5 separate regions of the Homo sapiens genome follow, and regions 1, 3, 4 and 5 are each linked to region 2. The links come from fine-mapping of genetic effects on gene expression. A gene starts in region 2. Each other region holds a variant in brackets. All regions are shown on one strand. Distances are between the middles of the regions.

Region 1 (5,109 bases), 450 kb before region 2:
CATGATGGAAAGAGAATTAAAGTACTGAATGTTCTGCTTTTCTTTCCTTTTTTCCTACTTAATAACCTGAATGGAGAACAAGAGAATAAGAGAAGTTAGTGGAGAAAAGGAGACATAACAAAATTGGGATCATGGCTGGTGAAAATGAGCATAATCAAACAGACATGTTACTTCTAAAAGAGAATATCAGCAAAAGTATTTCCTAACAGTATGAGAATCACAGGTGAACCTAAGTAGATAGGGACCATTTTCTATCAATATCCATGTGGGATTTAAAAATATATATACATATATATGTGTGTGTCTGTGTGTGTGTGTGTGTGTGTGTTTAGGCCAGGCACTGTGGTTCACATCTGTAATCCCTGCAACTCAGGAGGCCAAGGTAGAAGGATCACTTGAGACCAAGAGTTCAAGACCAGCCTGGGCAACATAACAAGACCCTATCTCTACAAAAGATTTTTTTTTTTAAATGAGCTGTGCGTGGCACATACCTGTAGTTCCAGCTACTCAGAAAGCAGAGGTGAGAAGATTGCCAAAGCCCAGGGAGTTTGGGGCTGCACTGAGCTATGATCACGCCACTGCACTCTAGCCTCCTGGGTGACAGAGTGAGACCTTGTCTCTCAAAAAAGAAAAAAATGTTTTTAATATCAGTGTCTGTCCTCGTCAGCTAGCTAATATGGTTATAATTCTCCTTTTTTTAAAATCAATGCATTGCTCACCAAAAAAAGATGACTGTGATACAGTGGAATATAATTAGACAAGAATATATGATTCACAACTCATTGATGAGAATTCTTGTAATTTATCATTAATATTAAAATTCTAACACTAACCTTTCTTCACTATTCCATGTAAAAGATTTAAAAGGTGCACTTGATAAATGAAGTTTGTACTGCAGAAAAAAAGCCATAAAACTAATAACTTACTTAGGCAAAATTCAAACTTTCAGTCCTAGTCTCCCAAGTTAATAGTAACAATAACAAAAATAATGAACATATATACAGCACTAACTCTGTATATACTAGCATATGAAAATAGTCTCAGCACCTACATCTATTAGCTTATTTGATCTTCACAACAACCCTTTTAGGTAGGTACCACCATGATTACCATTTCACAAATGCAGAAACTGAGATACAGAAAAAACTTTTAAATGTCCAAAGTTACACAGTTAGTAAATTGCAGAGCTGGTAGTGGAATCCAGCCAGTCTTGTTCCAGGTAGTTGGAGTTTTTTTTTTTTTTTGGTTTGTTTGTTGTTGTTGTTGTTGTTGCTTAGAGAGAAGGTCTCACTCTGTTACCCAGAAGACTGGAGTGCAGTGGTGTGATCATAGCTCGCTGCAGCTATGATCCTCTTGCCTCAGCCTCTCAAGTGGCTAGGACTATAGGCACATGTCACCATGCCCACCTAATTTTTAAAAAATGTTTTTGGTAGAGATGGGGTCTTGTTATGTTGCCCAGGCTGGCCTTGAACTCTTGGGCTCGGGTGATCCTCCCACTTCAGCCTCCCAAAGCACTGGGATTATAAATATAAGCCACCATGCCTGGCCCAGATCGTGTTCTTAATTATTATATTATACAGTTTTTCAAAATACTTAATATGCATGCATGTACACACACACACACACACACATACACACAAATGCATGCATCTGAGCTCTAAAGTTTTTTTTTGTTTGTTTGTTTTCATTTGTTTTTGTTTTTGTTTTTGTTTTTTTGAGACAGAGTCTTAATCTGTCACCAGGCTGGAGTGCAGTGGCTGGAGTGCAGTGGCCCGATCTCAGCTCACTGCAACCTCCACCTCCCGGGTTCAAGCGATTCTCCTGCCTTAGCTTCCTGAGTAACTGGGACTACAGGCACGCGCCACCACACCCAGCTAATTTTTGTATTTTTAGTAGAGATGGGGTTTCACCATGTTGGCCAGGATGGTCTCGATCTCTTGGCCTTATGATCCGCCCACCTCGCCTCAGCCTCCCAAAGTGCTGGGATTACAGGCATGAGCCACCATTCCTGGCCTAAAGTTTTTACATTTTACTAGTCAATGTATTCCTTTATGTGCTTTTGCATATATTCTGTCTATTTGGAATCTTCTTCCTTCCAGAAACTCCTTCCCTTCCTGCAAGATAGCACAAATGTGGCCCTTTTCATGGACCCTGACCCAGTTTTCCTAAGCAATGATAGATTTTCTTCCATTGCCCCTGTGAACTTTGAGGCTTTGTTCCCACTTACATTAAAGCACTTGTATTTGAAGAGATATATAATCATACTTGTCTCTCAGCCAAGACCACGAGGCTCCTAAGAGCAGAGACACTGAGCTGAACAAAATTTCTGGCACGAGGAAGGCCTGACCAGAAGGAAGGGGTGAAGACCACATAAAGATGCCTTCAAATGGTCTCCATAATGAGTCCTTTACTTAGCGTCTCAAGCACGAGCTCTGCCACCATCCAAAAGCCATTGTGATGGCACTGGCAATCAAGTAGATAAGTGAAGGCCTTCCTTGCACACTGGGGAGGAAATCTTTGCTCTCTTCCATCCCTTCTCCACCATCTGCTGTACCTGTCTACCCTGGCTGCTCCTCCAGCATTGCAGAAAAAAACTAGAAAAAGGAACTCCTATGCCTACCCTGCAAAACCCAGTGAATACAGTAGATGTAGCCTTTCAGACCACCTACCTATTCCAGAATGGACCTAATAAACTCAGCAACTAAGGATGTTAATTATCATCTACCTAACTATAAGTCAGAAATTCTATGCTGTGTTCAAAACAGTTATATCTGAGATACACTTACTCATGCAGTTATAAATCAGAATCTTTTAATATTTTTCAAAAGCAATTTATTTGTAATTGAATGCATTCTCCATGCTTATTCCTTTTAGATGTCTTACTGAATGCAGAGAGAAAATATGGTAGTATCCCTGCCTTTAAGGAGCTTATAATGTCTTAAAGCAGCAACCTATAGCAACCAGATTAAATTAGAACAAATGAAATTAATCGTAATTCTAAACAGTATTTGGAAAAGGGAAAGAATGAC[A/C]GAAGTGGAATGATCATTGAAGATTTCATGAAAAAGAATATATTTCACAACAAAATCCAAAAAAGTTAAACATTAATATTATGGCTAACTTTTACTTATATACGAGTGGAGCTAGAGTATGGCTCTGTTAGATATTAGTATAATATTTAGTATTATATTAAACACCTCACTCCCCTTCACCATAAGAGGTATACCACATAAATCTCTGGAAGTTTTCATCCAATTTATTTTATTTTATTTTATTTATTTTTTTGAGACAGGGTCTCACTCTTTCACCCAGGCTGGAGTGCAGTGCTGCAATCTTAGCTCACTGCAACCTAGACCTTCCAGGCTCAAGCAATCTGCCCACCTCAGCCTCCAGAATAGCGGGGACTACAGGCACACATCACTATGTGTGGCTAATTTTTTGTATTTTTTGTAGACATAATGTTTTGCAATGTTGCTCAGGCAGGTCTAGAACTTCTGAGCTCAAGCAATCCTCCTGCCTTGGCCTCCCAAAGTTTTGGGATTACAGGTGTGCACCACAATGCCCAACCTATTTAATTTGATGTTTATACCTGAATTCTGGGGAAAATAAGTGATTTATACAATGTGTCATATCTGGAATTTCAGTTATAGGCAAAAGAAAACCTTTCTGAAAAAAGGCGAATTATTATTTTACAGTTCTGCAAATCAGAAGTCTAAAATGGGTCTTACAGGCTAACATCAAAGTGTCACCAGAGCTGTGTTCCTTCCAGAGGCTCTAGGGGAAAATGCATTCCTTGCTTTTTCCAGCTCCTAGAGACTGTCCTTATTCCTTGCCTCATGACCCCTCTCTCCATCTTCAAAAGCACATCATTTCAACCTGTTTCCATAGTCATATCTCTTCTCTCTAGCTTTGACCCTCTTGTCTCCCTACTATGAAGAAACTTGTGATCGTATTGGGCCTCCAAGATTATCCAGAATAATCTCCCAATCTCAAGAGTTTTAACTTAATCACATCTGCAAATTCTCTTTTATCACATAAGGTAGCAATCACAGATTCTGGGTATTAGGGCATGGACATCTTTGGTGGGCCATTATTCTGTCTACCACATCTATGCTTCCAGACTTGACGATATGGGAAACCAAAATATATCCACCAAAATATACTTCTTTGGCATATTTTGAGATGGCTCTTTAGAGGGGCTGCAGACATAACAGTGGCTCTGAAAGCTGTCCTTTTGTGGAAAAGATTTGCATCTGTAGAGGAAATCTACATTAGTGAAGTAAACAGTGGATGCAAACAGGATTTCTCTGAGACCCATTATCAGCCTTATCCTAAACTAGGAAAGATTAACTCATAGAAAATATCTGACAGTATTAAAGTTCCAACAGGGAAACTGTCACCACTGGATTCCATCTATTCTTTCTGAGAGCTGTTACCTGAGAGATTTCATCTGCATAACAAGACAGCCTTTGCTCACCATGCCTTTTCTCCCCTCCCCCTCCCAGAACCTGTCTCCAAACTCCAAGTCTCTGTTCCTTTCTGTACAGTATGAAAACTTCAGTCATTTGGCTCTTCTTTAAGTCTCATCTTTTGTGTGGCTCCTGTGCACAGAAATAAATTTATATACATTTTCTCCTGTTGATCTGCCTATTGTCAGTTTGCCTTATAGATTCAAATTATATTCGGAAGAAGGGGAAGGAAAATTCCCTTTACTCTACAGTGGTCACCTGGTTTTAAATAAAATTGGTACAATTAGCAATTACTAGACTTGGCAATAGACGCTAAATATATGGTAATATGATGACAAATGAAAACATGATGATATACTTTTCTGAGTCTACCGATATATGATTCCTTGGTATTATGGACTGAATATTTTATTCTCTCAAAATTCTCTGTTGAGCCCTAACCCCCAGTGTGGCTATGTTTGGAGATGAGGCCTCTAGGGAAGTAGTTAAGCCACCAAACCTGTGTTATTTTATTATGGCAGCCTGCACTGACTAAGACACTTGATGATATCAAAAGAAATGTTAATATGCTAGACATGAGTGCCTGACAGACATGGGGAGGGAAATCAAGATAATATAAATCTAGTACTTTATTACAAGCAGT
Region 2 (5,109 bases):
CTTGGTTCTCAGTTCTCACTGTTTCCTCTGGTCACGGAGACTTCAAATAAAAATGCACATAGCTATGGAGTGGGGTTTAGCTGGAAAAGGTGACCTTCTTCCAACTTCACGTCAACTTCTGGCTCCTCAAACAGTAGGTTGGCAGTTAGGCAGGGAAGTTGTTTTCCCATTTCTCACTGAGCAGATTGTGAATATTTCCATATGGATTTTCTATTATTAACATTACCCTGATTCTTTGTTTTAAAATAAAAATTCTGAATGTACGCACACAAAAAAACTCTAAATGTTCCATATATCTAATTTATGCTTACCTTTGGCTGTGGCATGAACCACAGCAGCCTGAGAGATAACCTGGTAAGTTTCAAAACCCAAATACGACAAAGCTGAGAGTAAAAGGCCTCTTTTGAAAGTTCCTGGGTTTCCCATTACCTATGGAAACAATTATGTTAAGAGTTACAAACTTTGAAAATTTGAAGGTACTGCTACCCCAAGCAAAAATTACATGAATTTTCTCCCACCCCCAAAGCAATCGATCATAATACTGGAAGCTTAAAAATTACTTCATCAAAATCTTTAGTAAAACTATCTCAAAGCGTATCTTATTGAGAAAAAGATATCCCCTGGAGTCGCCGCTCATCTAAAAATCACACTCCTGCTGGAAAGGAAGAGCTACAACTTATTTGCTACAACTTATTTGCAAATGCATGGATATTGCAAATTGTATGAAGTAAAATATGAGACACCAACACATAATAAAAATGAATCTTACAGACAAGATTATCATATATAGTAATTACTACATATAAAAATGTACATGGCTAACTTTTAAATTTTTTTGTAGAGACAGGGTCTCACTGTGTTGCCCAGGCTGGTTTCAAACCCCTGGACTCAAGCAATCCTTCCGCCTCGGCTTCCCAAAGTGCTGGGATTACAGGCTGAGCCAAGGGGCCAGGCCTAAAATGGGACTTCAAACTCATCATTGTTCCAATTTGAAAACTTACGGCTAACTAGTTTCATACTTAGAACTCCTCCCATCTCTCTGCCTATATTATCTATAACCTCCCCATTTGGTTATAAACTTCCAAGGAAGGGGAATATGCCAAATTTTAACCACCCCTCCCCACCATCAGTCCCATAATAATTCTGAAAGATTTTAACTGAGCAGTTAAAAATTTGAGTTTAAAATAATGAAACCCCTAGTTCATGTGAAATATATCATATGCATTAATGCCATTCCAATTCCCTGACAAGAATAAACAGAGGCCCACGAGCAGTCTAATAGAAATACCAGAACTGAGACTACAACATGCCGACAACCTTCATTGACGTTATGCAGATACAACGGGCAACTGAGAAATAAACATTTTTAAACAAAAACCTAAACAGTATGAAATCTCTGCTTCTGAGTCGTAGAACTTTTTAAATCACACACCACACTTTTCAAAGTCTGAAAGGGGCAGCCTCAAGCGCTGTTGTATCTGTCATCGCCTACAGGGAGAATAATTTCACAGCGGTCAAGGTTCTTTCCCGTCCTGTTTTACATTTCGCACAAGAAGGGCGGGTAGCAGGCAGCTTCTGGGGCGCGTGGGGGCAAACCCCACTCCTTCTCTGACAGCCCCAGTTAAGGATAGTGGAGGTTTGCAAAATGGAAGGGACCTGTCCGGGCGTTCCAGGCACAGTGGCCCCGAGTTCTTTCCTCGGTTCACCACATTCCTTAGGCAGCGCGGGGCCGCCACCACTTAAGTTAAGGGGGAGCCGGAACCCACTGAGTAGGAAGTGAGGAGCGGGAGCCAGGACCACGGGGGTACCTCGAAGCCGCGGAATCGACAGGGGCCGCAATGCCCGCGGCTGCCCGAAGTCCCCGCAGGGAGACGAGACCCCGGGGCGGCTCCACGTCGGAAAGGCAGAAGGCGCCACAGTCGAGCAGCCAGCGCCATGACCTGCAACTTGCGGGCTGACCCTGCACTACTTCAGGCAGCTACGGAGGCGGGCGGGGCTAAAGGAGATTCAATCCTTCCGGAAAGAACCGCGCCCGCCCGCCTCCTGCACAGCACCTCTTCCGCCTCCTGCCCAGCACCTCTTCCGCCCCCATGGTTTCCGGTGCACGGGCTTAGGGGGTGGGAAATACCCCGATTGGGTGGGACTTAATGGACTTTCCGCGCCTGCGTCCAGGACTGAGGCCGTGAGAGCGCTCTCTTCAGGCGCTCTGACTTGTTTCTGCTCCATCTCTCTAGGGGGTCTTTCATGGTTTGGGCACAAGGATTCGTCGCCAGAATAGAACTGAAAGCTCGGAAATAGACCCGAGAATACAAGTATGCCAGAAAAAAAATTGTCATTTTAATTATCTGCTGCCTTCAAAAGTAGATTGAATCTTGGTACTAGTGGGTCTTTTTTGGAAGTAAATAATTGGAAGAATTATGTTGCCCAACATGAAGAAGGGAAAGTCTCAGTCTCTTCGACTGAGCGACTCAAGGGGGTAGATTCAAGAGAGAGTCCAGAGCAAAGAAACAAAAAATGCAAAGCGTTTTGGGAAGAGGAACTAGCGGGAGGAGGCCTCTGGAAAGGATACTGATGCCCTTGAATGCTAGGGCATGTGTAGTAAAAAACAGAAACAAAAACAAACCCTGGTCTCCCCTAAAATTCTTCAATAAGATGTTTTACTTACTCGAGCAAAGTATTTTATTTTACTCGAGTAAAATAAAATTTCTTGCTCGAGTGGAATTCTTTTGTGGGAAAATGAAGAAATTTTGGATCCTACTTGAGGCCTGATCAGGGTGGGTGGAAACACAGACTGCAAAGGGAGTACCTACTATATGGGTTTAACGAAAAATCTTATGGGTAATAAGGGAGGCGAGTCATGGTTTTAAAAAATTAGGTTGCATTTCTATGGTACTTTTAATACTGTATAGGGAATTAATACATAGTCGTATTGATCTTCCGAACTACCTTGTGAAGTAAGTGGTATCCCAGGTTTACAAATGAAAAAACTGTAACTCAAAGAGATGTATTAACCTAACCAAGGATATGTTAGAAGACAGGAATCCATGTCTTTCTACTCTGAGTCCAGTGCTCCTTCTACTATATGATTGCTACCTCCACTAGTCCCATTAAATCAGCTGTATTTCTTTAGGATTATGTCTTTAAAGTCTATCTTTAAAAATATATAGATCTCCTTCCCAACTTCTGAAACCTAGCTGTTTTTTCCCAAAGACAGAATCACTTTTATTTTATGCATTTCTACTGGCAGCTACCCCCTCAACATTGCTAAATGTTTATGCCACTGGATACCATGATAACAGTGAAATTAAGTTTCTGATATCTCTGCTAGAGTGAATTTGTAATTAAGTTTTTAGCTTTGAAAAAAAAATTAGATCCTAAGAAAAGTTGCAGGAACTCCCATATATTCTTCAGCTAGATTCAGCCATTGTTACCTTTTTCTCACATTTGCTTTATCTTTCTTTACATATCTTACCTATAATACACATATTATATTCCTAGTATTTTCTGTTGTAAGGCCTTTTGAGAGTAGATTACAGATATCATGACTCTTCAGTCTTAGAAACAAGACATTCCCTTACTTAGTCCCAGTTTAATTATCAAATTCAGGAAACTGAAATTGACAGAATACTATTATTTAATATACAAATTTTGTTTAATTCCCAATACTGTCCTTTATACTAATGATTTTTTTTTCTAAATTCAAGATCAAATCTTGATAATGTCTTGCATTTGTTATGTTTCTACTTTCTTTAAATCTTTAAATCGTCAGCCTTGGTCTTTCACGACATTAGTATTTTTTAAATGTATAGTCCCATCGGTTTAAAGCAGGGTTTCTCAGCCTTGGCACAATTGAACTTTTGGGCTGAAGAACTCCTTCAGCCCGTCAGGCCATCAGATGATTGCAGCCTTGGCCAATATCTGACTGCAACATCAAGAGAGATGATGAGCCAGAAGCACCCAGCTAAGCCACTTCTAAATTCCTAAACCACAGAAGCTATGACAGATAATAAATGATTGTTCCTGTTTTAAGCCACTAAATTTGATGTAATCTGTTACACAGCAACTGATAACTAATATAACAGCCAAGTAAAGCATAGAGAGTTGGAGTGTGGAGTTTCAGAGGAAAGGTGTGGAAGTTTGATAACCTTAAGAATATAGGCTGGGCGTAGTGGCTCACACCTGTAATCCCAATATTTTGGGAGGCCAAATCGGGAGAACAGCTTGAGCCCAGGATGTTTGAGACCAGCCTGGGCAACACAGTGAGACTCTGTCTCTACAAAAACATGTTTTTCTTGTTGTTGTTTGTTTTTTGTTTTTGTTTTTGTTTTTTAATTTGCTGCATGTAGTGGTGCATGCTGTAGTCCCAGCTACTCAGGAGGATGAGCTGGGAGGATCATTTGAGCCCAAGTGTCCAAGGTTGCAGGGAGCGGTGATCACACCACTGCACTCCAGTCCAGGCAACAGAGTGAGACACCGTCTTTAAAAAAAAAAGAAAAGAAAATTAAAGAAGTTCGGGCACGGTGGCTCACGCCTGTAATCCCAGCACTTTGGGAGGCCAAAGCGGGCAGATCACGAGGTCAGGAGATCAAGACCATCCTGGCTAACACAGTGAAACCCCGTCTCTACTAAAAATACAAAAAATTAGCCGGGTGTGGTGGCGGGTGCCTGTAGTCCCAGCTACTCAGGAGGCTGAGTCAGGAGAATGGCGTGAACCCAGGAAGTGGAGCTTGCAGTGAGCCGAGATCGCACCACTGCACTCCAGCCTGGTGACAGAGCTAGACTCCGTCTCAAAGAAAAAAAAAAGAGAGAGAAAATATAGATGGAATTCAAAGCTCTGAGACTAAGGCTGGGCGTGGTGCCTCATGCCTGTAATCCCAGCACTTTGAGAGGCCAAGGCCAGTGGATTTCTTGAGCTCAGGAGTTTGACACCAGCCTGGGCAACATGGTGAAACCGCATCTCTACAAAAAGTACAAAAATTAGCCAGACACGGTGGCTCGTGCCTGTAGGTCCCAGCTACTGGCTGAGGTGGGAGGATCGCCTCAGGCTAAAGCCTGAGAGGTTGAAGCTGTGGTGAATCGTATTCGCACCACTGCATCCCAGCCTGGCTG
Region 3 (5,109 bases), 31 kb before region 2:
TCATTCATCTATTTACTCAGTCATTCAACAGATTTGCCAAGCATTGTGCCAAGTAATGAGTGTGCAATTGTGAGCCAGAAAAGACAAAGTCCACATCTTCTCAGAATGTACAGTCTTACACATGTAAATGTTCATAGTATTGAGTGATAAGTATCACTGGAAAAATAAAAGATACTAAGGGCATCAGAGGAGCCTCTGAACTGAATATAGGCCAGAAAGAAATAAGGTAAGGTCACTCAAGAATGACTGAAGTTACCAGGGATTATTTTAGCTCCATGAGGGTAGGACCATGTTTTTCTCAACACCCCCAACCCTTAAGTCTCTAAGGTCCTATATTTTTACTTTGTAATTAACTTTTAAATCTGTTAAAAAAAGTCATCCCTAGATTCATATTCATGATATGTGAAACAGTATGATCAAGAGAGGGTATCAGTGAAGGTAATAATGAATAAATCAGAATTGATGAATTACAGAGATAAAACATTCAGATAAAATTCTGTAGAAGATAACTGTTATCATGAAATGAACAAGTCCATTATGTGTGGGATCTCAAATTTAATAAACATGGTATGTCTTCTCCTGATTAAGTTTTATAGAATATATTTCAATGGTTTTTATGGTCTATTTGGTATCATATGCTTATGTCTCTTATCTCCCCCACTTGGTGTATGAATATTAAAAAGGATAAATTTAGGATGGGCTGGTGGCAGTTTCATAGGACTAGTCATTTTTTCAAAACAAACATAACCCGAAACTCTTTTTCACAATATCTGCAATAGAACTAGCCTGGCTGAATAGCAGAATTCCCATTTAAATGCCTCTAATGAGATGCATAATCTTTTTTTGTTTTTTTCAGACAAGTCTCACTCTGTGGCCCAGGCTGTAGTGCAGTGGTGCAATCACAGCTCATTGTAGCCTGGAACTCCTGGGCTCAAGTGACCTTCCTGCCTCAGCCTCCTGAGTAGCTGGGACTACAGGTGTGTGCTACCACACCTGGCTAATTTTTATTTTTATTTTTTGGTAGAGATGAGGTCTCGCTATGTTGCCCAGGCTGGTCTCAAACTCCTGGGTTCAAGTGATCCTTCTGCCTTGGCCTTCCAAAGTGCTGGGATTACAAGTGTTAGCCACCACATCTGGCCAATATGTGCAGTCTTGAATAAGACAATTACCATGTCAGAGACTGCTCTCACAAAGGAAGCAGAATTACATCAAATGATAGACATTCCAGAACTGCAGCTCTAAGTTCAATAGCAGCCTATTTCTCATTCAGGTGATCTTTACTGAATAAAGACTTTAAAAATTGTTTTACAGTATCTAGCACAAAAATAAGTATAACAGAATAAACAACTGCTTTAGACATTGCTATTATAGTATATATTCAGCATTCATACAATTTTAACTATATTAATATGTGTAATCAAAAATACCTTACCTTGTTCTGCCCTGTGAAAGTAGCCTAAGGCCTGTCAAAAACACAAAGAGCCCAAACATAATAAAAAAGATTAAAGAAGACAATATTAAAAAAGCATTGTCTCAAAGATCTACTGCTATATTATATTTAAGTCAGGAAGTAAATCATCTTAAAATAATGGTCACTTCTTCAACAGTGAGAGTTAACACCCAAAGTGAACGTAACACTTCAATCATCAAGATTACAATATATGGACTACTTCTGGTAATAACTTGGTTGCTGTTTAGAACTTGTACCAAACTAACATCATGTGCAGAAAGGAAAGAACATTATCACGTGTAACTCAGCTATTTTGACAGTTCTCTTAAATCATAACTAGTGATTTTTAGTAAAAACAAAATATAATCAAAAGCTGAATTTATTCGTTGTACTAGTGAATTTTTAAGAGTCCATTATTATTGAAATTCCTACATACAATGTTAAGTCTGAAACTCTTTTTGTCCTACTTAAGCTACTGTTTTTGTAATGCATTCTCTAATGACATTTGATTTCTAGAAACATAACTAATTTGATAAAGTAGAGCTGACTATATTTTTTGTCCTTAAAATGACCTGTCTTAAAAAAAAAAAAAAAGAACCAGGTCTCACTCTGTTGCCCAGGCTGGAATGCTGTAGCGC[A/C]ATCACTGTTTATTGCAGCCTTGACCTCCCAGGCTCAAGTGATCCTTCTCCCTCAGCTTAGCTGAGTGACTGGGACTACAGGCACAGGCCACCACACCTGGCTAATTTTTGTATTTTTTTTGCAGAGGTTTTGCCACGTTGCCCAGGCTGGTCTCAAACTCCCAGGCTCAACTGATCCACCAACCTTGGCCTTCCAAAATGCTGGCATTACAGGCATGAGCCACCGTGTCCAGCAAATGGGCATTATTTTAATAATACCATTATAAAATATTGGTGCATTATTTTAATAATATTTCTCAACTGTGTGTAAAGAATACAACTAAGTATTTTTTACATCAATTTCTACACTATAGCTTCCCAGAAAGAAAAAAAAGCTCCTTGTTATAATGTAAATAATACAAGTACAGCTTTTTCGATTGCCTGTTTTCTTACTCTGAAAAGCTTGTGATGAGTAAACCCAAAGTTTAACCAGAAATTCCTCTCAAATCTTATTTTTAACAAGAAAAGCAAAAGGCCTTGAAAATATGAGAGAATATGAACCTTTCATATGCTTTTTAAAATAGAAGTTATAATGAGTGTTCTTCTTTTATCAACTTAAGCATCTGCTTTACTTTTCTGTTATTGTGTGTAATACAGCTAAAACATGCTGGGTAACAGATGCTGTATTTCTTGTTCTATTTTATGACTTCAATATAGTTTAGATTTCAAACAGAAAATGAAGGTAGATTTTAGCCACGAGCCATTTTAGATGACAGTATTCCAGAATTACCAGCCACTCACCTAACGGGGAAAAAGAAAACCACTCACCAGTCAAGGATAATAAGTGTTAAGCCTTGTGATAACACAGTTGAATTGGATCATTAGAAATTGCTCAAGTCCCTCACTGAATCAGAGCTCCACATGTGTGAACACATGGTAGAATGGCGCTGTGGTTAAGAAATCCGTACTAACTTAACAAAGGACATCATACTACCTTCTCATAGGTGGAACTAGGAGGAGTTGCAAACAGCATTTTAGCAATTCTTCTTTGATACCAAGGCATTTCGGCAAATGTATAGCACCTACAGGGAAATAAAACAATTTTATACATTCAAATTGTACCTTCTTTTCTCTTAAAGTTAACTAAGCATCTTAATACTATAAAAGGAATCTTCTACTGTATGTTTAAACAACTTGTGCTTTACATGATATCTACTAGGTAATCCAGAGATTGACATAGTGATCCTTTAGCTGGGGGGTGTATTTTGTGATTAAATATAAATAGTAAGCAGTCATACTAATAACAGTAATATAATATACATCTACCACTGAGTGCATTGTGCCAGGTAGTGGGTTGATTCTCTCATTTATTCCTTGTAACAATTATATATGAGATAGGATAATTTCCCCTATTTTTCTTATAAGAAAAACTCAGAGAAGTTAAACCTTACACAAGAAAAATGACAAAGCTAAACATCAAATGTATAAATAACAGCAACCAACAACTTAAATCTATTTTTAAAGCAGCAAAGCAAATGATTAACCTCCAAAGATCTTTACAACTTTCAGAAATAAGTAGGAAAGAAAGTGTTGCATCTTTGACTAGGGTCTGAAGTCCTTAAGGCAGAAATTGCTATTTCATTTGGGTTTGCTTACTAGCATCTGACTTAGTGACTGCCCCTCAATTATCATTAATCCTCAGTGAATGAGTGTTAGCTTAATATGTCCTTTATCCTGAAGAATATATTTCTCTTTTAAAAGAGTTTGATACAGGACAGTTTACACTGGTACCCTTCTTAGATGGCAGTAAATATTCAGCTCTGCAGGCTATACTCAAAAGAGTGTCCCATCTATCTCAAAACAGACTCTTAAACCATCAAGTACGTAACACTTTGATAAAGCCTCATACCAGCAAAATAATAATCTACAGTGGACATAAGATCACATAAAAATAGAAAGATACTGAAAATCAGATTATATGGTTCCTCAGATTAATCAAGACTGTATCTGACACACTTTGAAGATACAAAGACCCTCTTGGGGCATTCTACTGTTTTACTATAGTTACATTAATCTAATTTCATTTAGCATGGTAAATAAGAATAGTCTTTTCAGTCTGTACATGTTTCTAAATGACCTGAATAACAATGTTTAACATGGTCATAATCAAATTTAGTATGTTCTAACAATATATATACAAGGGCTAGTTAATGGATTTAGCACTCTAAGCTCTGTCAGATAATATTTTAAAATATTTAATATCTTTTATATATGCAAAAGAAGATATTTATACATACTACAAAATATCACACTAAATACTACTGAAATATTTAAAGAAATTTTCTTACCAAATACCCATAAGGTGAATTGAAGTAGCATCTTTAGGGTTCAGTTCAATTGCTTTCTAACAAGAAATGAGAAAAATAAATCATATTTGTTTTCTAAACACCAATAAGTGCTTTACTGTGTTTGCTGAAGAAGCCATGATTTTTTAAAAAATGCAACTGTGTGTTTCAGTTCTCCCATTATAATATCAACTTTCTTCCTCCTGATTCTTTGATTAAATTCATTTCAAAACACTATTAATGACTTATACTAATGTTACTATTTTGTATGGTTCAGACATTTATAGTAAGTGTCTATCAAGATGAGAAAAAACATGAAATACATAAATGGATTAATTTTGCAAATTAATCTTGCAAATTAATCTATAGCTCTTAATGTTTCTTCCAAATTAAAGGAAAAATGGATAAGGAAGTACTTTCTTGGCAAACTGTAGATGAATACTGAATAAAAGTCATTCTTTCCTAAAGAAGAAAAGTGCATTTTAGTTTTTTAGAAAAAATGTAATTTTAGAAAGTCTCTTCTATGCAGATTTTAGAAAGTCTTTTCTATTTTTAGAAAGTCTTCTTGTATGCAGATTTTGTTCAACTTCCCCATCTGTACTTACCAAAGGAAAAATAAACAGTTTATAGAATATTAATAGAATAATTATGTGCAATGTAAAATATGTTGAATCTCCCTAATTTATATTTACTATGT
Region 4 (5,109 bases), 79 kb before region 2:
AATCTTTAATAAATAGTGTTTCTGATATATATAAGTACTTTATAATATTTTAAAATATTCTAGTTTACTAACATAACTTATACATTAAGTTTTATATCCTACGGGGTAGTTTCATAAATGCATTTCTTAACAAAATAATATTTTTACTAATTTTCAATCTTCCACTTTTATAAATTTTGTTTGCTTTCAACAAAACCAGTTACTTTATTATTTTACTTAGAGCCAGTCTTGCAGTATGCTACCTATTCTGATTCTCTTCCCAGATTCTAAGAAGCAACACTCATCTGTTTTGCTCCATCAAAGATATTTCTAGAACTCGAAAGTTTTATCCAAAAAATCTAATGCTGTCTGAAAATTTGACCAATTGGTGATTTACTTATTGCCATAAGCAAACATCCGTGAGAGGAGTGGAAAAAACAAAACAAAACTCCTCTGATAAATGGTGTGATCATAGGAGGTAGAAAAGATAAATTTTAAGTACTGGACAACTACAGATAGTGTTTTGAGGCAACTTGAAGAAACCTAAAATATAGAAGCTAGCAGATAGAAAGGAAGTAGGAAAGAGACATAGAAAGAAAATGTAAGTAACTTTCTCCAAAATCCTGCTGCAGTCTGGCTCTTTCAACCACATTTTTTTCAGAGGTTAAATAGTAAGTTCTCATTTGCAGGTTGACCTACTCTCCTGGTTATATGTAGCTAGCAGGGAGGGAGTGGGCAGCCTAGTTTCCATAGCGTTTCCTGCTGCCTTCAGTTGCTGGTTCTTCCATGACTTGTACAGAAATCTGTGGTAAGGTTCCATAATTTAGCTGTATATAGTAATTATACCGTGTGGTATATATAGTAATATATATAGCTATATACATCCATAAAAAGTAATACATATAGCTTTGTTTTTGGTTGGACTTATCTGTACACATGAAAACCTTTGGTGAACAGGGCAGAATGAGGTAACAGATGTGTATCAGAAGAATGTTATCTTGCAAGTAATAGAATCTCCTTAAACACATTGAGGTTTAATTATCTCAGTACAACATCAAGTCTGGGGTAAAAGTGTAAGTGCTGCATTGACTCAGTAGTGTCATCAAGGACCCGGGTTCTTTCTGCCCTTTTGCTCTGCCATCCATATCGCACTTCAGGCCTGTTACTTCGTTTATATACTCTGCACTATGGGCCTCACATCCATAGTCTAGGCAAGAAGAAAGAGAAAGAGGAATTGAAAGGGCAGATGGCTCTGTTGTTGCAAGCCCTTGCCTTTTTTACTTAGCGAAGGATGCCCTCACCATGGCCTTCTGCCTATACCTCATTGGCCAGAATTGGTCACTCTACCAACTCAGCTGCAGGGAAGGGGGAATGGAATGATCTTTATGGCCACGTTTCTACCTCCAACAAAACAGGGTTTTGGTTCTCAAGAACAGGTGGAAGATAAATATTGAGTATAATTAACTGGGTCTGTTACAAGATTATATTCATCAAGATGCATATACTTTAAGAAATTATTTTTCAGGTAATGATTTTTATATTTGTCATTATTATAGAATTCTTGATAGAATACTTATATTTTCTTCAGAATATATTTCTAGGTTATAAGAATGGAGGCATACATAAAAATGTGTTTTTATGTATGTATGAAAATATAAAAGATACTAATTAAAAGTTTATTTCTATAAATGATACTGGAGTTGAGTGTTAGTTTTATTAGTGGGCATTTGTTTTAAAGAAAATTGTGATAACTGTTCTATTTTTAAACAAATAATATTGCCTCATTTAAACATCATAATTTCCTATATGTTCTTCTCCCATTTCATCTTCCCTCTATAGATTAGTATGGAAGGACTGGGAGAGTAAAGTATTGATGCCAGTGTATTATTTTTAAATCATTTTCGAAAAACTAATAATTAATTTGATAGTTGATAGTCTCCTCTTCGTGACATTTTATGAACTTAGTGTCTTGGCTGGGAGCGGTGGCTTACACCTGTAATCCCAGCACTGTGGGAGGCTGAGGCGGGTGGATCGCTTGAGCCTAGGAGTTCGAGACCAGCCTCAGAAACATGGCAAAACCTTGTCTCTACAAAAAATACAAATATTAGCCGGGTGTGGTGGCGCATATCTGTAGTCCTAGCTACTCGGTTGTTGCTGAGGTGGGAGGATTGCTTGAGCCCGGGAAGCAGAGGCTGCTGTGAGCTGAGATCACGCCACTGCACCCCAGTCTGGGTAATAGAGCAGGAAGATCCTGTCTCAAAAAACAAAGAACTTTGTGTCTTGAAATTGCTATATTTCCTTATAATGTGGACCTATCTATCTGTCTATATAATAATATAGATATATTTTTGAGACAGCTTCTCGCTCTGTTGTGCAGGCTGGAGTGCAGTAGTAGTGTGATCACAGTTCACTGTAGCCTCCACCTCCTGGGCTCAAGTGATCCTCCCACTTCAGCCTTCCAAGTAGCTGGGACTTTAGGCATGTGCCAACACATCTGGCTAATTAAAAAAAAATTTTTTTTTATAGAGACAGGATCTTCCAGGCTGGTCTTGAACTCCTGGGCTTAAGTAATCCTCCCACCTTGCCCTCCCAAGGTGCTGAGATTACAGGCATGAGCCACTGCGCCCAACCCCTTATCATATTTTTAGAAAATTATTATAAAATGTGATTCTGCCACATGCTTGGCTTATTTCTACTTTCATATTAAAACACTGTTATTTTATTTCTCTCCCTAATCTTTTCTCCAATCAGGCTTCAATGTTAGCTGCAGAAAATGACCCTTATGGACCTTTGCCACCAGGCTGGGGTAAGCTGTTTTTGCTAATGATCTATAAGGGAGATATATATCTCTCCATATATATATATATATATATATATATATAT[A/G]TATGTTCCTTATTTTATATATATATATCTCCCTTATATATGTCCCTTAACATATATATATCCCTTATAATATATAATATATTTAATATGGATTATATATTCTATATATTATATATTCTGTAGAATGTTATATATTCTGTATACTATATAGAATATATAATCCATATTAAATATATTATATATTATAAGGGATATATATGTATATTATATATGTATATATTATAAGGGATATATATATGTATATTATAAGGGATATATATATGTATTATATATATAATATACAGAATATATAGAATAGATTATATATTAAAGAATTATATATTATAGAATATATATTATATTCTACATAATTATCTATAATATAATATATATTATATTCTCTATAATATAATATATGTTATATTCTCTATAATATATATTATATTCTATATAATATATTCTATAATATATAAGGGATACATATATCCCTGATATGTTTTTATATATATAATATATATTATATATAATTATATGTGTTCCTTATTTTATATATAGATCCTAAATAGTTATTAAATATTATACTCACTTTATATTTCAGAAAAAAGAGTGGATTCAACAGACAGGGTTTACTTTGTGAATCATAACACAAAAACAACCCAGTGGGAAGATCCAAGAACTCAAGGGTATGTATATACAGCAGCCTTAAGTCGTCTTGCATATATCAGTAGGTAGAACCAACCAACCTTGAATGAGATATTTTTAGTACCTAGAAAAGGTTCATCTTGTGATTTTAACTTTATCTTTTAGCTTACAGAATGAAGAACCCCTGCCAGAAGGCTGGGAAATTAGATATACTCGTGAAGGTGTAAGGTACTTTGTTGATCATAACACAAGAACAACAACATTCAAAGATCCTCGCAATGGGAAGTCATCTGTGTGAGTGAAAACCTGAAGTTCTCCTTTAAATATTGCTTAGTGAGCACATGAGATTTAGTCTCTAATTTATCCTCAAGTTTAGCAAAACATTTTACTTTTTGGTTCAAGAAAACCTACACAAGTGAAACCTTAGTATAGCTGTCTTTGCTCTCATTTGACAATGGATTTGCAGCATGTAAACTATTTATGTAGTGATTACTGTGTGCCGAGGATTGTTCTAAGTACTTCATAGGTATTAACTCATTTTATCTTCCAATAACCCCTTGAGGTAGATACTATTATTTTTCCCTTTACCAAGTGAGGAGAGGTATAGGGAGCATAACTAACTGTGCAAAGTTATAAGGCAAGTAATGGAGCTGGTTTCTAACGATGACAGTCAGTCTCTGTCTAGACTCTGTGCTCTTAACTGCCACATCACACTGCTGCAATGAGATGGTCAGTGAAATGATTTTTCCAGATTTAAAGATACCTTAATTAAGCGGTTGACAGATCTCTCCTTCATTCTTACTCTAAGGTGTCATGTCTTTGCATAACTAAGAAAATAGAAGCAATCCTAAAAGGTCTTTTGCAAAGTTGTACCACCATATCTGTCCGTCTCCTACCATCTCTCCTCCCTCCTGTTCCTATAGATGAACTGTCATTGTTATTATCAAAGTCTCGTCCCTCTGCTGGTACATTCGATTCCTACCCCCACTTTTCTACTTAATTGCTCCAACAGTTATCACCTTTGTGTTGCATTATCAGGTTTTATTTCTCTACAAAATTATTCTTATCAGCTGTTATTTCTCCTAGATATAAAAAAAAAGCAAAAAAAAAAAGAAATTACAACTCTTCCCTTTACCAATGTGTTCAATCGCAGTTCATTTTTTTGTTTTTTTTTTGAGACGGACTTTCGCTCCTGTTGCCCAGGCTGGAGTGCAATGATGCGATGTCAGCTCACTGCAACCTCCACCTCCTGGGTTCAAGCGATTCTCCTGCCTCAGCCCCCTGAGTAGCTGGGATTACAGGCACCCGCCACCACACCCAGCTAATTTTTGTATTTTCAGTAGAGATGGGGTTTCGCCATGTTGGCCAGGCTGGTCTCGGACTCCTGACCTCAGGCGATCCACCTGCTTTGGCCTCCCAAAGTGCTGGGATTACAGGCGTGAGCCATCACACCCAGCCCACAGTTCATTTTTATTGCTCCCCTTTACAGGAAAGCTACTTGCATGGTTGTCTCTGTATTGCTGTTCATAGTTTCTCCTTTAAACCAACTCCAAGGAAGTTCCCCTGACACTGAATTTGCAAGGGCACCAATGATCTTCACATTGTTAATCCAGGCGTTGGTTTGCA
Region 5 (5,109 bases), 170 kb before region 2:
GTGTCTATAAAAATATTTTAAAAATAAAAACAAAGAGTATCAGTAAAGGCCAGGTGCGGTGGCTCACTCCTGTAATCCCAGCACTTTGGGAGGCCAAGGTGGGCAGATCACCTGAGGTCAGGAGTTCAAGAGCAGCCTGGTCAACTTGGTGAAACCCTGTCTTTACTAAAAATAGTTTTTAAAAAAGACCATCACAAGAAATAATTTCCTTCATAAGATATAACTGCTTTAAGTTATATCTTATGGCATGGGAAGCCCTTAAGACTGATATACCTACTTACTTTGTTCGGTACTTATAGGAAGGTAAACAGGAGAGGGGAACATCAGAAGAGGAGAGGACTGCCTCATGTTGGTATTTCACTCCTTCAAAGGAATTCTTAAGGAAGTGCAGATTGTCCTAAGGGGCACTGCTCTCTATGCTATCTGAGTTTTGGGCTTTGACCAGAAGGGGAGCATGAGAATGAGGAGAATACTAAAGAGGGCTAAGTAACAAGCACTTGGGTGATAGGATCATTTGTACACCAAGCCTCAGTGACACGCAATTTACACATGCAACAAACCTGCACAGGTATTCCCTGAACCTAAAATAAAAGTAGAAAAAGAGAAAAAAAAAAAAGAAACAAGTGAAGCAGCATTCAAATGAGTAATGGAAGTGAAGCAAACCCCACCTCTTTCACAAGTACAGGTGAAATAGGAAACTTTTAAAGTGCAAGGGAAAATAGGTTGGGGCAGTTTCTCAGCTTCAGCATTAATGCCATTTGGACCTGATCATTCCTTGTTTTTTGAGTGGAGTGATGGGGCTGTCTTGTGCACTGTAGGATGTTTAGCACCCTCTGTCACATCTACCCACTAGATGCCAATGGAACATCCAACCTACCCCCATGAAAAATGTCGTAAGCCATTGCCAAAATCCCCTGGGATATGAAATGGTCCCAAGTTGAGAACAACAGGATTAGTGTATTTGTTATCTATTTCTGGATAGATATAAATTATCTCCCAAATTTAGTGACTTAAAACAATAAGCACTTATTTTACCGCTATAGTTTCTATGGGTTAAGCATTTGAGAGTAACTGAGTTGGGTGGTTCTGGTTCAAGGTCTTTGATGAGGCTGCAGTCAAGACGCAATCATCTGAAGGCTTGACTTAGGCTGAAGGATCCACTTCTAAGATGTCTCACTCACGTGGTGATGGCAGCAGGCCTCAGACTCTGGTGGTTGTTGGCAGGATGTCTCAGTTCCTTGCCATGTGGGTCTCTACACAGGGCAGCTTCCTGTGTCTTTGCCATATGGCAACTGAGAATGATCTGAAAGAGAGTGGGAGGGGCTCCATGATGCCTTTTTATGGCCTGGTCTTGGAAGTGACACACTGTCACTTTTGCTATATCTGTTAACAACAAGTCACTAATTACAGCCTACATTCCTTTTGGAAGAGAATTAGGCCTCACTGGTTTATTTTTTTTTAATTTTATTTATTTATTTTTTTTTGAGAGGGAGTCTTGCTCTGTTGCCTAGGATGGAGTGAAGTGGTGCCATCTTGGCTCACTGCAACCTCTGCCTCCTGGTTTTTTGTTTTTATTATTTTTGAGACAGAGTCTTGCTCTCACTCTGTTACCCAGGCTGGAGTGCAATCATGATGCACTCATGACTCACTGCAGCCTTGACTTCCTGGGCTCAAGTGACCCTCCCACCTCAGCCTCCAGAGTAGCTGGGATTACAGGTGCACACCACCATGCCCAGATAAGTTTTTGATTTTTAGTAGAGATGAGGTCTCACTACGTTGTCCATGCTGGTCTCGAACCCCTGGGCTCAAGCAATCTTCTCACATTGGCCTCCCAAAGTCCTGGGATTACAGGCATGAACCACTGTGCCTGGCTAGGCTTCACTTTCTGAGGGCAGAAGTATCAAAATATTTGTAGACATATTTTATTAAGAAATTTAAAAAAATTATTCTTGGAAATATAATACAGACAGGGTGTATTAGTCTGTTCTCATGCTGCTAATAGAGACATACTTGAGACTGGGTAATTTATAAAGGAAAGAGGTTTAATTGACTCATAGTTCAGCATGGCTGGGGAGGCCTCAGGAAACTTACAATCATGGCAGAAGGGGAGGCAAGCACAACCTTCTTCACATGGTGGCAGCAAGGAGAAGTGCTGAGCAAAAGGGGGAAAAGCCCCTTATAAAACCATCAGATCTTGTGAGAACTCACTCACTATCACCAGAACAGCATGAGAGTAACCGCCCCCATGATTAAATTACCTGACACTGGGTCCCTCCCACAACACGTGGATATTATGGGAACTACAATTCAAGACGAGATTAGGGTTAGGG[A/T]TGGTGGCTCATGCCTGTAATCACAGCACTTTGGGAGGTCGAGGCAGGAGGGTCACTTGAGATCAGGAGTTCAAGATCAGCCTGGCCAACATGGTGAAACCCCGTCTCTACTAAAAATTAAAAAAAAAATTAGCTAGGTGTGGTAGCATGTGCCTGTAATCCCAACTACTCGGGAGGCTGAGGCAAGAGAATCACTTGAACCCAGGAGTGGAGGTTGCAGTGAGCCAAGATCACACCACTGCACTCCAGCCTGGATGACAGAGCAATACTCCATCTCAAAAAAAAAAAAAAAAAGATGAGATTTGCGTGGGGACACAGCCAAACCATATCACAGGGTTTGTCATGTTGGTCAGGCCGGTATCAAACACCTGGCCTTAAGTGATCCACCTGCTTTGGGCTCTCAAAGTGTTGGGATTACAGGTGTGAGCCACAGTGCCCGGCCTGTAGACCTATTTTAAAACCACTACAGTTAGAGAACAATTTTTTAAACAAATGGTTTGGGGGAATACCATGAGCTATTTTTAAAGGAATAAAAGTTAGATTATCATTGCAAAATAAATCCAAGAAAATTAAATTATTTAATGAAAAAAGTAAAATAGTCAAACAAGTAGAAAAAAGTAAAGACAGATGAATTATATGATCTCAGGATGGGAAAGATGTATGAAGTAAAAAACAATGGAAGAATACAAAAATGGAAAAGATCAATAGTTTTACAAAGGACTAATATCTACATTGTGTGAAGCACCCTTTTGTGAAATACCTCAGTAAGAAAATGGACAAAGGACAAACAATAAGCTACCATACATACACATATGAAAACATACCATGATGATTTGGGCACATGGAAGAAGGACAATCACATACTGTCATGTAGTGTTGTGGGAAAATTGATAACCATTATGACAATCATTTCTTGATTATGTGCCATGCTCATGTGTTAAGTAGCTCTATGCGTGTTATTTATAGCAATTTATATATATTTTTTAATACAACATGTGGAAGCACTATATTAATTTTCTAGTTGAGACACAATTAGATTAAGCAATTGGCCAAATCTCTCAGCTCATAGGCAGCAGGAGGGTCAGGTTATCCATTAGGCACAGTAGACACAGTGCCTCAGGCTTATAACACTTTCGGGGGCCCATAAAAATGTTTTAATTTCTTTTAAAATCAGAAGGCAAAAAATTGAATATTTAGGTCAAAGAAAATATTTTAATGTATAATGTTAATATCTTTTTCTTCATACCAATGCAGTAATAAAATATATTTTGTAGTATTATTTTATGGAAGATGAGGCCCACACAGGTATAAGCACCTAGGGCCTGTGAAAGTCAGAATGTGGCACTGGGTGGCAGAGCTGTGTTTTGATGCTGGGCGATGTGATACCTGAGCCTATGCTCTTTCTGGAAGGTAGTTGCCAATATGTTTCAAAAGGGCTAAACTTGTTCATACTTTTTTATTACTTTTAATAATTTATCTAAGACAGTTAATAAGGACATGAACAATGGTTATGGAATACTATTTATAATATTGTTCATTTGAAACCAAACAGTCAATAACAAAAGGCTGGTTCAATATTGGGTGTCAGCTTGAGGACTAGGTGAGTACTAAGAGCTTCTGAACGGGGAGGAAATTGAGCAATGAGGGGAGCTGAAAGTGAGACACAGAGCAGGAAGAGGAGGCCTGCATGCATTCTGGAGAAGGAGTCCAGATCCCTGCTGGGGAATACCTACGGAATTTCTGAGGACGTGTTTGTAAGCACATTATTGCATCTATTTAAAGGGACCAGACAGCAAAAGCAAAAAGATGAAGAAAATCTTAGTACATGTTTAAAGCAGAGATGAGTGGGCACATATGGGGCACTGTGAAGAGTTTTTCATAACAGGAGAGATAGAGCATGTGAGCATCAAAGGAACCTTGAATATCACGTTAATCTTTGTCAGGAGAGCTCCGAAAAGCCAAAGAATGATTTTAAGCAGTGGAATGACACAGATGTATATTTTCGAATGATCTTTGTGGATATAATGTGCACCAATTTCAACTATGAAGCCAGAGGACAAGAACTAATGCATGGAGGTAGGCGGGAATGTGCATTGTTCAGTCAAGAGATACTTGTTGAATTCTGTACACACTCATGAAGTGTTGGGGTTGTTTTTGGTACACAGTTCTTTCAAAAAGCTCAGTTAAAATGGAAGGGGAGAGAGAACCAGAGGTTTTAAAATCAAGGGAAAATTTAGGACCTAATCTTAAAACGTGATTATGCTGAGGAGTTGTAGGCAGTGGAGAGGGTGAAGTTAAAGATGTGCCAAGGACCGCCCACAGTGGGGAGCAGGCAGTGGAGAGGAGCAGGGACATCTAGCCTCCGAGATAGAAGGAAAACTAGTAAGTCTGGGTGTGGACGTAGATATAATCTATGGGGGTTGGTCAGGTGGTTGGGCAAAAGCTGTAGAAATCCATGCCTGAAGGCTTCTGCTTCTCTGAAGTAGAAACCGGGTCACCTGGTAAGCAATGTGGTCCCACTGACTTCTATTTGCACATTGGCCTTTCTTCTAAAAGCAATACACATAACCAACAGTACTTTTCTAAACTAGTTGACTTTTCTGTAAAATGCAGACAGTAGACACTACTTTGTCAGATTGTTGTGTGCGTTAATTGTGCGGACACGTATACTCGGTCAATAAGTATCTGCTTTATCACCGGGCTGATGTGAGTGAGGACTAGGTGGTGGGGCTTCCACAGATGAACGTTTTGATTAATAAAAAATGGACTGAAAGTCTTC

Alleles and levels. Alleles are on the strand shown, and positions count from the first base shown. SD is a standard deviation of normalised expression in the study named. Not every link is listed here.
In carriers of allele A in region 4, the expression in neutrophils of the gene that starts at base 2,003 in region 2 tends to be higher than with G alone (small effect, 0.40 SD a copy in CEDAR).

The links. PIP is the estimated chance that this variant, and not a neighbour inherited with it, causes the effect.
Region 1: its variant is fine-mapped to the expression of RMDN1 in whole blood (INTERVAL, PIP above 0.99).
Region 3: its variant is fine-mapped to the expression of RMDN1 in thyroid (GTEx, PIP above 0.99).
Region 4: its variant is fine-mapped to the expression of RMDN1 in neutrophils (CEDAR, PIP 0.94).
Region 5: its variant is fine-mapped to the expression of RMDN1 in whole blood (INTERVAL, PIP above 0.99).

The regions. Positions count from the first base shown.
Region 1 is chr8:86,055,676-86,060,784 of GRCh38, forward strand. All of the region lies in intron 2 of PSKH2 (protein serine kinase H2), which reads right to left. Among named protein-coding and RNA genes, the nearest start is that of PSKH2, 11 kb to the right of the region's middle. The variant A/C (reference allele first, on the strand shown) is at 3,030.
Region 2 is chr8:86,506,684-86,511,792 of GRCh38, forward strand. It overlaps RMDN1 (regulator of microtubule dynamics 1), which reads right to left and starts at 2,003. Exons shown (of 10, transcript NM_016033.3): 1 at 1,809-2,003; 2 at 312-429. The coding sequence starts at 1,937. It also overlaps the pseudogene SLC2A3P4. RefSeq lists an enhancer at 1,748-1,917.
Region 3 is chr8:86,475,862-86,480,970 of GRCh38, forward strand. RMDN1 (regulator of microtubule dynamics 1) reads right to left here. Exons shown (of 10, transcript NM_016033.3): 6 at 4,416-4,471; 7 at 3,062-3,149; 8 at 1,433-1,463. Among named protein-coding and RNA genes, the nearest start is that of RMDN1, 30 kb to the right of the region's middle. The variant A/C (reference allele first, on the strand shown) is at 2,089.
Region 4 is chr8:86,427,967-86,433,075 of GRCh38, forward strand. It overlaps WWP1 (WW domain containing E3 ubiquitin protein ligase 1), which reads left to right. Exons shown (of 25, transcript NM_007013.4): 12 at 2,731-2,785; 13 at 3,440-3,524; 14 at 3,649-3,777. Among named protein-coding and RNA genes, the nearest start is that of RMDN1, 78 kb to the right of the region's middle. The variant A/G (reference allele first, on the strand shown) is at 2,863.
Region 5 is chr8:86,337,085-86,342,193 of GRCh38, forward strand. WWP1-AS1 (WWP1 antisense RNA 1) reads right to left here. Exons shown (of 6, transcript XR_007060994.1): 4 at 1,182-1,303. Among named protein-coding and RNA genes, the nearest start is that of WWP1, 2.9 kb to the right of the region's middle. The variant A/T (reference allele first, on the strand shown) is at 2,331.